Linked DNA regions of Homo sapiens. The protein of the gene in region 2 interacts with the protein of the main gene of each other region in a pairwise test. Each region holds a gene or a part of one and is shown on either strand. Other genes may lie near its edges. The genes, in order: HOPX, ZSCAN1 and ERCC3.

Region 1 (3,650 bases), on a different chromosome or scaffold from region 2:
CAGGAAGGAAGCAGAAAGAGCACAGCTGTGAGATGCCAGATCTGGGATGTGCTGATGGAGATGGGATGGTGAGAAACCTCTAGAGGGCTCCCCACATAGCATGGCTTGATGCCTATACAGATACTCAGAATGAACAGGATGGGCTCTAGGAAGCTGAAAGGGAATTCAGTATATAAGCCCAAGATCAGAAGAAAGTGTGAGAATCACAGGGGGAGAAGGAGCAAGGCCTAGAGGAGAGGCTGTTGAGCTTGAATGGGGGTAAGGCTCTGCAGGACTGCTTTGGGCTCCACATCAATGCTAAGCAGGCTGAATAGCATGGGAACACACCTACACCTCACCCACCTGTACAGCAGAGTTTACACACTGAAATCCTTTACACAGTTGTCAAGATCTTACATACCTTTACACTGGGGCGGCAGTAGAGAAAAGTAATCGAAAGCCAAGCACGGCAGACTATCATGGGGGTAGCCTTCTCTTTGGGGGCTACTTTCTGGGTGCCATATTTTGCTCCTGGAGATCAAATCACTACCCTTCATGAGAAGAGAGAACTCATGTAACTTTGGCAGCTTCAATCGAAATTCTACTGCTAAGGGTGGGCCCATTTTCTTCTGTAACCTGTGTGCGTGTGTTTAGTTAACTCTGGATTCTGGTATGAGAGCAGCAAGGTTCCAGTTTCATTAATGAGGTAGCTCTGTGGGGGGTTTCAAGGATGCAAGGTCTGATTAAATAGGATTTCCAGTTACTACAGCTGAAGAAATGGCAGCATTGTAAAGACTGACTAATTAAAATCTGGAGGAGGAAAATCTCACTTTCTATCAGATTTCATTTAAGAAAAAATGGTTGAGCTGGTCTCATTTAAAAGAGCCACCCACATCTTTACACTATGTAATGAAGCAGAATATTGATGGACTGTTACTGAAAATAACTTCAGCAGGGACCACATTTGTGGTTTTGTGAGTTGGTACCCAAATGCTTAACAAACTGAGCCCTAACATTGGGGGATGGGAGGAGGTCAAGAAAAGCTCAACTGTTTTTTGAAGATGCGTATTTTAAATCAAGTATATATATAATAATTTAGCAAAACCAGTTGCAATCCAACAGAAATCATTAAATACCTTGCTTGCTTTTTTCCCTTTAGAGCTGTATCTTATCAATCTCATGCACATCAGTGCTAATTTTCCACCTGGCTTTATCCTTCTCTTCTTTGTTTCAGTCATCCACTGGGAAAGACATTCATCCCTTGCTTGCTTATAAATGAATGCCCTCATTACCCTTGCCCATTGATGGAGATTTATTTACTCTGAATAAACAGATGATAATTAGACACTGTGATGGGTAGGGGCTGGGGCAAAGGAACATTGTTCCTGTCCTTTTCTCTAGTAACTAACATTTCATTCTTTTCAGGAAGAGACCTTTAGAGGTCTTTATTCCACCGATAAAACATCCAGTGACTAAAACCACTGGGTTCTGGGAACAAGCTCAGGACATCAAGAGGAGATAAAAATACTTGGAGACCTCCCTAAGAACCAATTCCAGTTACATTGTGCTTGAATTGAAGAGAAAGGGAGAGAGAGAAAGAGAGAGAGAGAGAGTGTGTGTGTGTGTGTGTGTGTGTGTGTGTGTGTGTGTGTGTTTGAAATAATAGAAAACACCAGATCATCCCAACCTCCCACGGGGCTGAGGAAGGAGATTTCCCAGCCTCTTCTAAAACTGACTTCAAAATAAAAGACATAGGGCTGGGATTCTGTAAGTTTTCATCTAATTTAAATCTAGGAGATATTTAGATTACTGTATTGAGAAAAACCCATTCTAACATCCCAGTAAATGCAACTTAGAAAGTTATTTCAATTACAGCACCCTTCACTTTACTTTGAGTTCTTATGGGTGCCACCTCCACCCCCACAGAGAATTTTGTCCTGAAGTGGGACAATTATAAAGAGGCCAGCAAATCTCCCAAGACAGAGAATGTTTCAACTTCTTAGTCCCGCTTGTCCCTGCCCCAAGTATCGGCCCTGTGAATCAGTTCTGGTAACTATCTTGCAAGAGCACTGGGCAGCTCAGGCTTCTTTTTGTGGTACTGAAGTATTACTTGTTCTAGGGAAGTTAAGAATATGATTCCATTTCTGGAGGTGGGTGGTGTTGGGGTGGGATGAGGACTCAGGCACATGAAACAAATGTTAGTTTGGCTTTAGTGACCCTTTCCCATGGAAAGGAGCAACACTAGTAAGAACAGAGATAGGGGAGGCTGGCTGCGATGGCTCATGCTTGTAATCCCAGCACTTTGGGAGGCCAAGGCAAGAGGATTGCTTGAGACCAAGAGTTCAAAACCAGCTCAGGCAACATAGTGAGACCCCCATCTCTACAAACAATTTAAAAATTAGCTTAAAAATTAGCCAGATGTGGTAGTATATGCCTATATCCCAGCTACTTGGGAGGCTGAGGTAGAAGGATTGCCTGAGGCTGGGAGGCCAAGGATGAGGTGAGCCATAGTCGTGCCACTGTACTCCAGCCTGAATGACAGAGTGAGACACTCTCTCCAAAAGAGAAAAAAAGAAAGAAAGAAAGAAAAAGAAACTGGGGAAGTGTCAATACCAGACATTACTTATATGTAGGCCCAGCAGGTCCTAGCCTCCATGGAGTTATTTAAAGGGTCCTCAAGACCTGCTATAAACAAAAATAATTTTAATGACGGAAAGTTCATCATTGGGCATATGTCTCCAGAAGACACTTTCTTTTTGTAATATTTTTATTTTTATTTACTTACTTATTTTGAGACAGGTTCTCCCTCTGTAACCCAGGCTAGGTGGTGCAGTGGCATGATCATAGCTCACTGCAGCCTTGAACTTCTGGGCTCAAGGGATTCTCTTGCCTTAGCCTTCAGAGTAGCTGGGACTACAGGCATGCACCAGCACACCTGTTTGATTTTTTTACTTTTTTATTTTTTATTTTTTGTAGAGATGGGCAGCGTCTTGCCATGTTGCCCAGGCTGGTCTGAAACTCCTAGCCTCAAGCAATCTTCCTGCCTCAGCCTCTCAAAGTGCTGGGATTACAGGTGTGAGCTACTGTGCCCAGCCAGACACTTTCTTTTTCATAGGAGATACTCTTTAAAAATATAAATGTTGTTTGAGAAGATGAAAGAAGAAATCATTCTCATTCACCAGTACCCATGGGGGTAGTGGGGTGAGAGGGGAAAGAATGGGAAATTGAAAGATGACACCCAATCCAGTAAGGGCAAGCAGACAGCCTGTGGTTCCTAGGAAGTCTCTTTCTCTGAGCTTGCTAAGTGCTGCCTGTCTCTAAGCTCTGGGGTTCCAGATGCTTCCCTGCAGGTCAAGGCAGGAAGACAGAGGGGCAAGCCAAGCTGTGGTAGCCATAGGGAGGAAGAAGGTGTTGGTCCTGTGGCAGGAAGAGGAAGCCAGGGGCCCTGCTAAGAGGCTGACTCACCCCACATCCACTCATTTTGGGGCTGGGTCTACCACTTGTTTATTTGAGAATGGCAGAAGGGGGGAAATGGGAGGACTGCCTGAGAGGTGCAGAAGAACCTGCTATGCAGAGGTCTGAATTGGCTGACCTCAGTCACAGAAAAAAAGCAGGTGCCCTTTTCTTCTTCCTACCCCTAACCGGATTTTATTTCAATTCTCTAATATCAT
Region 2 (3,750 bases):
CCCCATCATGTGATGGGAGTATTCAACCGTGCCCAGTACACAACACTATGACATGACCACGGGGAGTAGACACATGATGTACAGATGACATGAGGCACAGGGAACGTGGGATGCAGGATGATGCGTGAGTGTCATAGAAAGGGAGTCCTGGGAAGACGCCCATGGGGGGCGGCCAAGTGCTTTGTGCTGTTCATACTTCTCTGAATCTCCTCCAAATGGTGTCGGGCTCCCATGTGACCTTCATCAACATGGAAAAACAAAACAAAACAAGACATCTTTAGGAAGGATTTTTGACCATATGGGAAATGCTTATGACAAGTGAAAAGGAGGGATTCCATGGGATTTTTCCCTCTTCATCCTCTGCTGCATTTTTCATACACTCTGCAGTTCTCGTGCATCTGGTTTTACAATCCAGGAGAAAGGAGAGGTGCAGGGTGGCAGAAAGGCAACTCACGGGGACTGTGCCCAGCCAGCCATCTTCGAGTCAGCGTACCCGGCCACCTGCACCCTGATTGGGAAACTACCAGCTTGGTCTTCCCTGCCAAGGCCACAGGCAAAAATGCTCTCTTATGTTGTATTCACACTTTTATATATGTAGTTTTGAATAAGAAAAAAGGGCCTATTTTGAAGCTCCACAGGTTCAAGAAATCCCTTTGCCCTGGGGCCTCAGACCTTATACTCTCTCAGGTGCTCATGGCAGCTCACCCTGGAGACTCTAGGGAGGGGGGCTGTAGCCCCTCAGCATCCTCCAGGGTCCTGGGCTGAGGTCTGTGGGAGGAGATGCTAAGTTTATCAGGGATGAGGGTAAAGAGGAGGTCTTAGCAGAAGGCACCAGAGGTCCATGGGTGTGTCTGGGGTCTATATGGGGGCTGATGTGGAACACCTAGGCCAATGTGGGGGTACCTGAGCTGATGAGAGTCCTGGACTGATGGGTGGCTGTTTCTGGAAGATGAAGAGGGCCTGGGATGATGTGAAGGGGACTGAGGTCTACATGGCTGGTGAGGAGGATCTGGGCCCCCCCATGGGCAATGCTGTGGTGGCCCTGGGGTCCTAGAAGTCTACTTTGGTAGGGGTCTCTGATTAATGTTGGGGATGTGTGTGTGTGAGAGAGTGTCACTTGGAGGGCTCAGTGCCTGTGGAAGGGCCAGGTTCACCTGGCATGGGCACTGAGATCTGCAGCCCGAGCCCCAAATTCTATTGCGGGGATGGGCAGAAGGGCTTTGCCGCTGATGCCGGATGCTTAGTGACATAGAAGACGTGTTCACTGCGCCAGTCAGTGAATGGTTCTGGCTTTGAGAAGGGGGCTTACAGTGGGGAGGGCGTTGGGAGCTTAGGATGCCACACGGAGGAGTTCCATAATAAACGAGCTGGGGAAGTGTGCAAGGGCAGCGCACTGGGAATACAGGGGAGGGGCAGCGACGACGGCTGTGGACGGCTGGTTGGGGGGAGGATGGTGGGGTGATTGGGTGGGGGATGGGTCGGGGGCGGCTGTTCAGGAGGGAGATGGGCCTGGGGCGGGGAGGGGGAGCTTGTAGGGAGAGAGACGGGTCGGGGGCTGCTGTTCCAGTGGGGGATGGGCCCAAGGGGCCGGGTAGGGAGGGAGATGGGTCCGGGGGCGGCTGTTCAGGAGGGAGATAGGTCCCGGGATGCTGATCAGGTGTGGAAGGGAGAACTTGGACGCGGCCGAGCGGTGTTTGGGCGGGCAATGGGGGTACGTAGAGGGGCTTCGGCCTCAAACGGACAGGCGGATGCCAACAGGGGTCGGGGTCCCTGCGGAAGGGGCGGCCCCAGCCCCCCCAGTCCCCGCCCCGCGTGGCCTCTAGCCTTCCCCTTCCCTCCCCTACGGCGACCTCAGGACTCCCGATGGGCTCTGGAACCCCGGCCCGGCCCGCCCCCTCCCGGGCCCGGGCCCGCCTCCCCCGACGCGCGCCCCTGGACCGCGATCCCGGGCCAGCTCCCGCCGACGCGGCGCCGAGACCCTCCCGGGTGGGCGTCCCGATGGACGCTCTGGCGGGCGGAGGGACGGATGGGCCGCGGCGGACTCACCGCGCGCGGGCTTCGCTCGGGCCTGGGCCACTCGGTCATGGCGACCCCTGGGCTGGCGAGCGCGCCCAACGCCGCGGGCGGACCCCATCCCCGCACCCTGCGCGCCGCGGGCGGCCGCCATTGGTCCGCTGGATCACGCCGGGCGTCGGTGACAAGTCACCGCTGCGGGACTCCCGGGCAGGGGCGGGGCTGTGACGCACGAGGCGGCCGAGGCCAATCAGAAGCCGCCTGGGATGAGCGCCCCGCCCCCGCCGTGCCCTCCAGTTACCTCGGGCCGCGGTTCCAGTCGCCTTGGCAACGGGTCGCGCAGCGTCAGGGACGCTGCTGCGGAAAGTGGAGACGGTGGCGGCTGCGGGGATGCGCATGTACGATGGGGCCGCGGGGCAAAACGACGGCATTCCAGACACGCAACCGTTTTATACAGTGTCCAAGAGTAGTATGTTAAAACATTGTTTTTAATATAAATATGTTTAGTACAAGTATGTCCCAGACTAGGATCGCCACTCTTAGCAAATAAAAATACAGGACGTCGGCCGGGCGCGGTGACACGCCTGTAATCCCAGCACTTTGGGAGGCCAAGGCAGGCGGATCACGAGGTCATGAGTTCGAGACCAGCCTGACCAATATGGTGAAACCCCCGTCTCTACTAAAAATACAAAAATTACCTGGGCGTGGTGGCGCATGCCTGTAATCCCAGTTTCTCAGGAGGCTGAGACAGGAGAATCACTGGAACCGGGGAGGCGGAGGTTGCAGTGAGCCGAGATTGCTCCATTGCACTCCAGTTTTCCAGCGTGGGTGACAGAGCGAGACTCCGTCCCCCCACCCCCAAAAAAAAGAAAGAAAAAAGAAACCTCAGTTATATGTAAACTCAAGAAAAACAAGGAGGCCGGGCGCGATAGCTCACGCCTGTAATCCCAGAACTCGGGAGGCCGAGGCAGGCGGATCACCTGAGGTCGGGTGTTTCAGACCAGCCTGGCCAACATGGTGAAACCCCGTCTCTACTAAAAATACAAAAATTAGCCAGGCATGGTGGTGCGTGCCTGTAATCCCAGCTACTCGGGAGGCTGAGGTAGGAGAATCGCTGGAACTGGGGAAGCCGAGGTTGCAGTGAGCCGAGACCTGCCAACGCACTCCAGCCTTGCCTGGGCAACAGAGTGAGACTCTGTCTCAAAAAAAAAAAAAAAAAAAAAAAAAGAAAGAAAGAAAAAGAAAAACAAGGAATTAGTATCAATGTGTCCTATATTTCATATACTTTAACGAAACCTTACATAAGAACATTTCATATAAATAAGTTTTAATATTAATGTCTACAATGTAACCATGTGCCAGAATAGTAGGGTTCCACAGATACTCGTTTTGTATCTGAAATCAGGTGGGGGTGAGATCATGATGCAAGGAGGGTCCTCAGCTCTGGGACTGAGCTCAGGATAGCTGAAGCTGCTCATTGCTGAAGAAGAAGCAGGAGAGTGTGAGCTAAGAAAAGAGAGGAGGACCCACCTCCAGGGGGTCCAGCATCTGCTGGACAGCTGTTTATTGAGGGCCTATGTGTACCAGGCACTGTTCTGGACACTGGGGTGGGAGCACATCAGTGAGAGGGACTGATAGGGCTTTAGTCCCTTGGAAGCCCATGTTCATGGGGCAAACACCAGTAAACAAAGCAGATGCTTCATGGAAATATAAATACCTAGAATAAAATAAAACGAG
Region 3 (3,650 bases), on a different chromosome or scaffold from region 2:
AGTAAGGATGAAGGCGTGATCCGACTCTGGATATGTTGTGAAGCTTTAATTGACAGGTCAGGTGTGGAATCAGAGAGAAATCAAGAATGACACTAAGGTTTTTGGCTTGAACAAAGGGAGGATACAGTGGGCATTAATTGAGATGGGGAACACTCTCAAAGGAGCTGGTCTGGAAGGTGACTATCAGGAGTTGGGCTTTAGATGTGTGAATTTGAGTTTCCTGTTAGGCATTCAGGCCATGGCAAAAAGGTTAAGAAATAGGCCAAAGAAATTGATAGACATTTCACCAAAAAAGGATATACATATGTCAAAAAAGCACTTGAAAAAGGGTTCAACCTCATTAGTCATCAGGGAACTGCAGATTTAAACCCACCACAGGATGCTCCCATATGCCAGTTAGAAGGGCCAAAATAAAAAATACTGATGTGCGGGTGCTGATGAGGTCACAGCAACTGAACTGTCACACATTCCTGGAGGGATGGATTGCAAAGTGTATGGTCACTGTGGAAAACAGTTTGTCCATTTATTATGAAATTACCACATGACCCATCAGTCCCATTCCTGTGTATCCTGGATACATGAAAAGAGGTTTACACAAAATCCTGTACACGAATGTTTATGGCAGCTCTGTTCATAATATCCAAAACCCAGGTGCTCATCAGTGGGTGTCTGGATAAACAAGCTGTGGTACATCCATACACTGGAACACTACTCAGTAGTGAAAAAGAACAAACTTGCTGCATGTTGCAACCTGGATGAATCTCAAAAGCATGGTGCTGAGTGAAAGAAGTCAGCCTCAAAAGCTTCCATAGTATGTGATTTCATTTATACAACGACAGTATAGTGCTGGCCAGCAGATCAGTGGTTGCCAGAAGTGGGGGGTCAGAGATGGATGACTCTAAAGGAGAGCACAGGGGAATTTTGGGGGATGCTGTCTTTATCTGTACCCTGATTGTGGTGCTGGTTACAAAAATGTAAATATGTTAAAATGCATAGAAGTGCCCCCCCCACCCCCCGCCCCAAGTCAGTTTTACTGTGAGAATTTAAAAACTCAAAAGAAAAAAGGTGGAAGGGTGGGTATTGGGTCTGCTAGGATTGAAAATTGATGGTACAGAGAATCACTACCCACAAAGGAGTCTGGAATTGTTCTGTAGCAGTTTGGTTGGAAGCTGTGTTCAGGGCTTGAGGCATTCTGTCTGACTATATGTTTGGTACACGTTCATGTTTTTCTTTAACCCAAGCCCCAGGTCCCAGGTTCCAGGGGACAACAGCACAGATTTGGGATTGGTTATCTGATGAACAAGTACAAAAAGGTGCATCTCACACTCACATATGTCTGTGAGTTTGTCTGTCTCTCGTCTAGTTCACTGGATGAGTTAGTCTTTGGTTGAGTTGCGGAGTGAAACCAACAAACTCTAAGGGATTTTTGAGTACAGGCCCCATAAGCCCAGTGGCCTGGCCATGCTCATTGTCCCAGAGAGCAAATGTTAAATAAGGGAATGCTAGGAAGTCACAGTAAGTCTCCTGACTGTCTTAACGTCTGCTGTGTTGGGTTAGGTGGAGTGATCAATCTTTGAGATTTATCTCAAAGGATAAAGATTGCTGTGCTGTTTTACAGATTTTTCAAAAGGAGCTCTGTTATGCCTTTTTATTAATGATTCATATTATGGTACTTGTGTATATTAAGTGCTTCCTGTGTGCTAGGTACTGTGCCAGTTTCATTATTTCTACAGGTATTTATTGAGAACCTACTAAGTTTAGGCACTGTACTTGGCACTGGAGACAAAGTGGAAGGGACAGCCAAGTAACCACACAAATAAATGCCAAATGACAACCATGACATAATGTTGAGTGATACAAGCCACACACAAAAGTGCATACTATGATTTCATTCATGCAAAGTTCAGAAAGGAGGCAGACCCCTCTCAGAAGTCAGAGGAGTGTTTCCCTCAAGGAAGAGTGCTAGTTATTGACAGAAGGGGTCAGGGGAGAGACCTCTGGGTGCCTGGTTCTCTATATCCTGATCTAGGTGGTTCCACAGCTGCATGTCTGTAAAAATATATTGAGTAGTATGCTGTGAGTTATTCACCTGTGACAGCTGTCAGGGCTGTAGGAGAGTGTAATAGAGGGGTGTGATGGGGTCACGGGTGTCCAGGCAGAGTCCTACCTGCCTTATCCTTGTCTTGGGTCAGTATGTCCCCCAGTGTTGCCTCTCTGGGGCCCACACTGGGTTGGTGTAGCCATTGCCTTGACTACCATTTCCCTCTAACATGGGGAGCTTGGTCTGAGGTTCTTGGCTACTGTATTTTGGAGCCAGCACAGTCTTTCCTTAGACATAACCCTGAGCTGATTTTGTTTTCTGTGTTGTGTGTGTGTGTGTGTGTTTGTGTGTGTGTGTTTGCATGTGGTGTTGTGTGCAAACCATGTAGATGTAAAAACTAAACATTTACTTAGAGTTAGGCAACCCTATGTTATTTCACTGTGAACGTCTTTGTGTTTTGGTGCATTCAGGCCTCTTTTTCCTTAGATTTTTGTGTCTATTTATTTCTGAAATATCATTAGCCCTACTTTCAATTATATTGTAAGATAAGCATGACTCAAACATTTTAACCTTGCTTCAGAGTATTAGAATTTTTAAAAGGTGAGCCCGTGGAAATCCATAAATTAGGTTTTTTAAAAATGAATAACTCATACCCTTTATGTGTTTATTTTATTTGATAAACCAGAGAGAATTATAATGTTCAAAAGAAAGGAAGAAAAAGAGGTTGCTGGTTGACCAAAGTGATTGAATTGGTAAAGTTTGGAGAGGGGAGTTTCCTAAGGCGGGCCGGAGGGCTTGGGCGAACAGTTCCTGGAGTTTCATCACTCCCGTGGGCTTGGCTTTCTTCTCGGTTTCTGGGAAAATGATGGGAAGCTGAGAAGAGCTGGCTTCTTTCATTTCTTCCTCTCCCTAGATTGTCAACTTTCTTTTCAGTAACCTGGGTACAAGTGTTAGGGGAAAATTCTTTGCGTAATTTAGAGCTTAATGGTATTAATAGTAAGTATTGCAGGTTGTATTTCAAATTGCCATCTGTACTTCTACTGATAACTGTTGTGAGGGGAATGCTGGGATTCATTAACTTGGAGATTCCTTAAGCTCATTTCACCCTCTTGTTCTCCTTTTCATTTTCTTTTGGACAGGTCTAAAAGTGATGGTGAAGCATTTGCCTAGTCATTCTTGTCTAGAGCCAGCTTCTGTGGTCCTGAAACCCAAGGGTTAGTTCAGGTGGTGTCATAAGCCAGTGTTAAGTTGCACAGCTATGAGCATTTGAAAAAGTGACAGTGTAGGCTGGGTGCAGTGGGTCACGTCTGTAATCCCAGCACTTTGGGAGGCGAAGGCAGGGGGATTGCTTGAGGCCAGGAGTTCAAGACCAGCCTGGGCAATATAATGAGACCCCATCTCTACAAAAAATATTTTAAAATAAATAAATAAAAAATAAGAAAGAAAAGTGACAGTGTGAATGCTCCCATTGTTTCCTCAGCCAAGATGTTCCGAAGGGTGCTCACCATCGTGCAGGCCCACTGTAAGCTGGGTTTGACTGCGACCCTCGTCCGCGAAGATGACAAAATTGTGGATTTAAATTTTCTGATTGGGCCTAAGCTCTACGAAG

Evidence for each region.
Region 1: the proteins of ZSCAN1 (region 2) and HOPX interact in a two-hybrid assay, tested with the Homo sapiens proteins (one large-scale study listed by BioGRID and IntAct).
Region 3: the proteins of ZSCAN1 (region 2) and ERCC3 interact in a two-hybrid assay, tested with the Homo sapiens proteins (one large-scale study listed by BioGRID and IntAct).

Annotation. Positions count from the first base shown.
Region 1 is NC_000004.12:56,650,283-56,653,932, forward strand, and holds part of HOPX (homeodomain-only protein), read right to left. Parts: intron 531-3,650; coding exon of another isoform or gene 401-530; intron 1-400. UniProt on the Homo sapiens protein: Atypical homeodomain protein which does not bind DNA and is required to modulate cardiac growth and development. Acts via its interaction with SRF, thereby modulating the expression of SRF-dependent cardiac-specific genes and cardiac development.
Region 2 is NC_000019.10:58,032,458-58,036,207, reverse strand, and holds the start of ZSCAN1 (zinc finger and SCAN domain-containing protein 1), read right to left. Parts: upstream 2,184-3,750; 5' UTR 2,047-2,183; intron 1,466-2,046; exon of another isoform or gene 239-1,465; 5' UTR 197-238; exon of another isoform or gene 1-196. UniProt on the Homo sapiens protein: May be involved in transcriptional regulation.
Region 3 is NC_000002.12:127,280,503-127,284,152, reverse strand, and holds part of ERCC3 (general transcription and DNA repair factor IIH helicase/translocase subunit XPB), read left to right. Parts: intron 1-3,521; coding exon 3,522-3,650. UniProt on the Homo sapiens protein: ATP-dependent 3'-5' DNA helicase/translocase. Binds dsDNA rather than ssDNA, unzipping it in a translocase rather than classical helicase activity. Component of the general transcription and DNA repair factor IIH (TFIIH) core complex.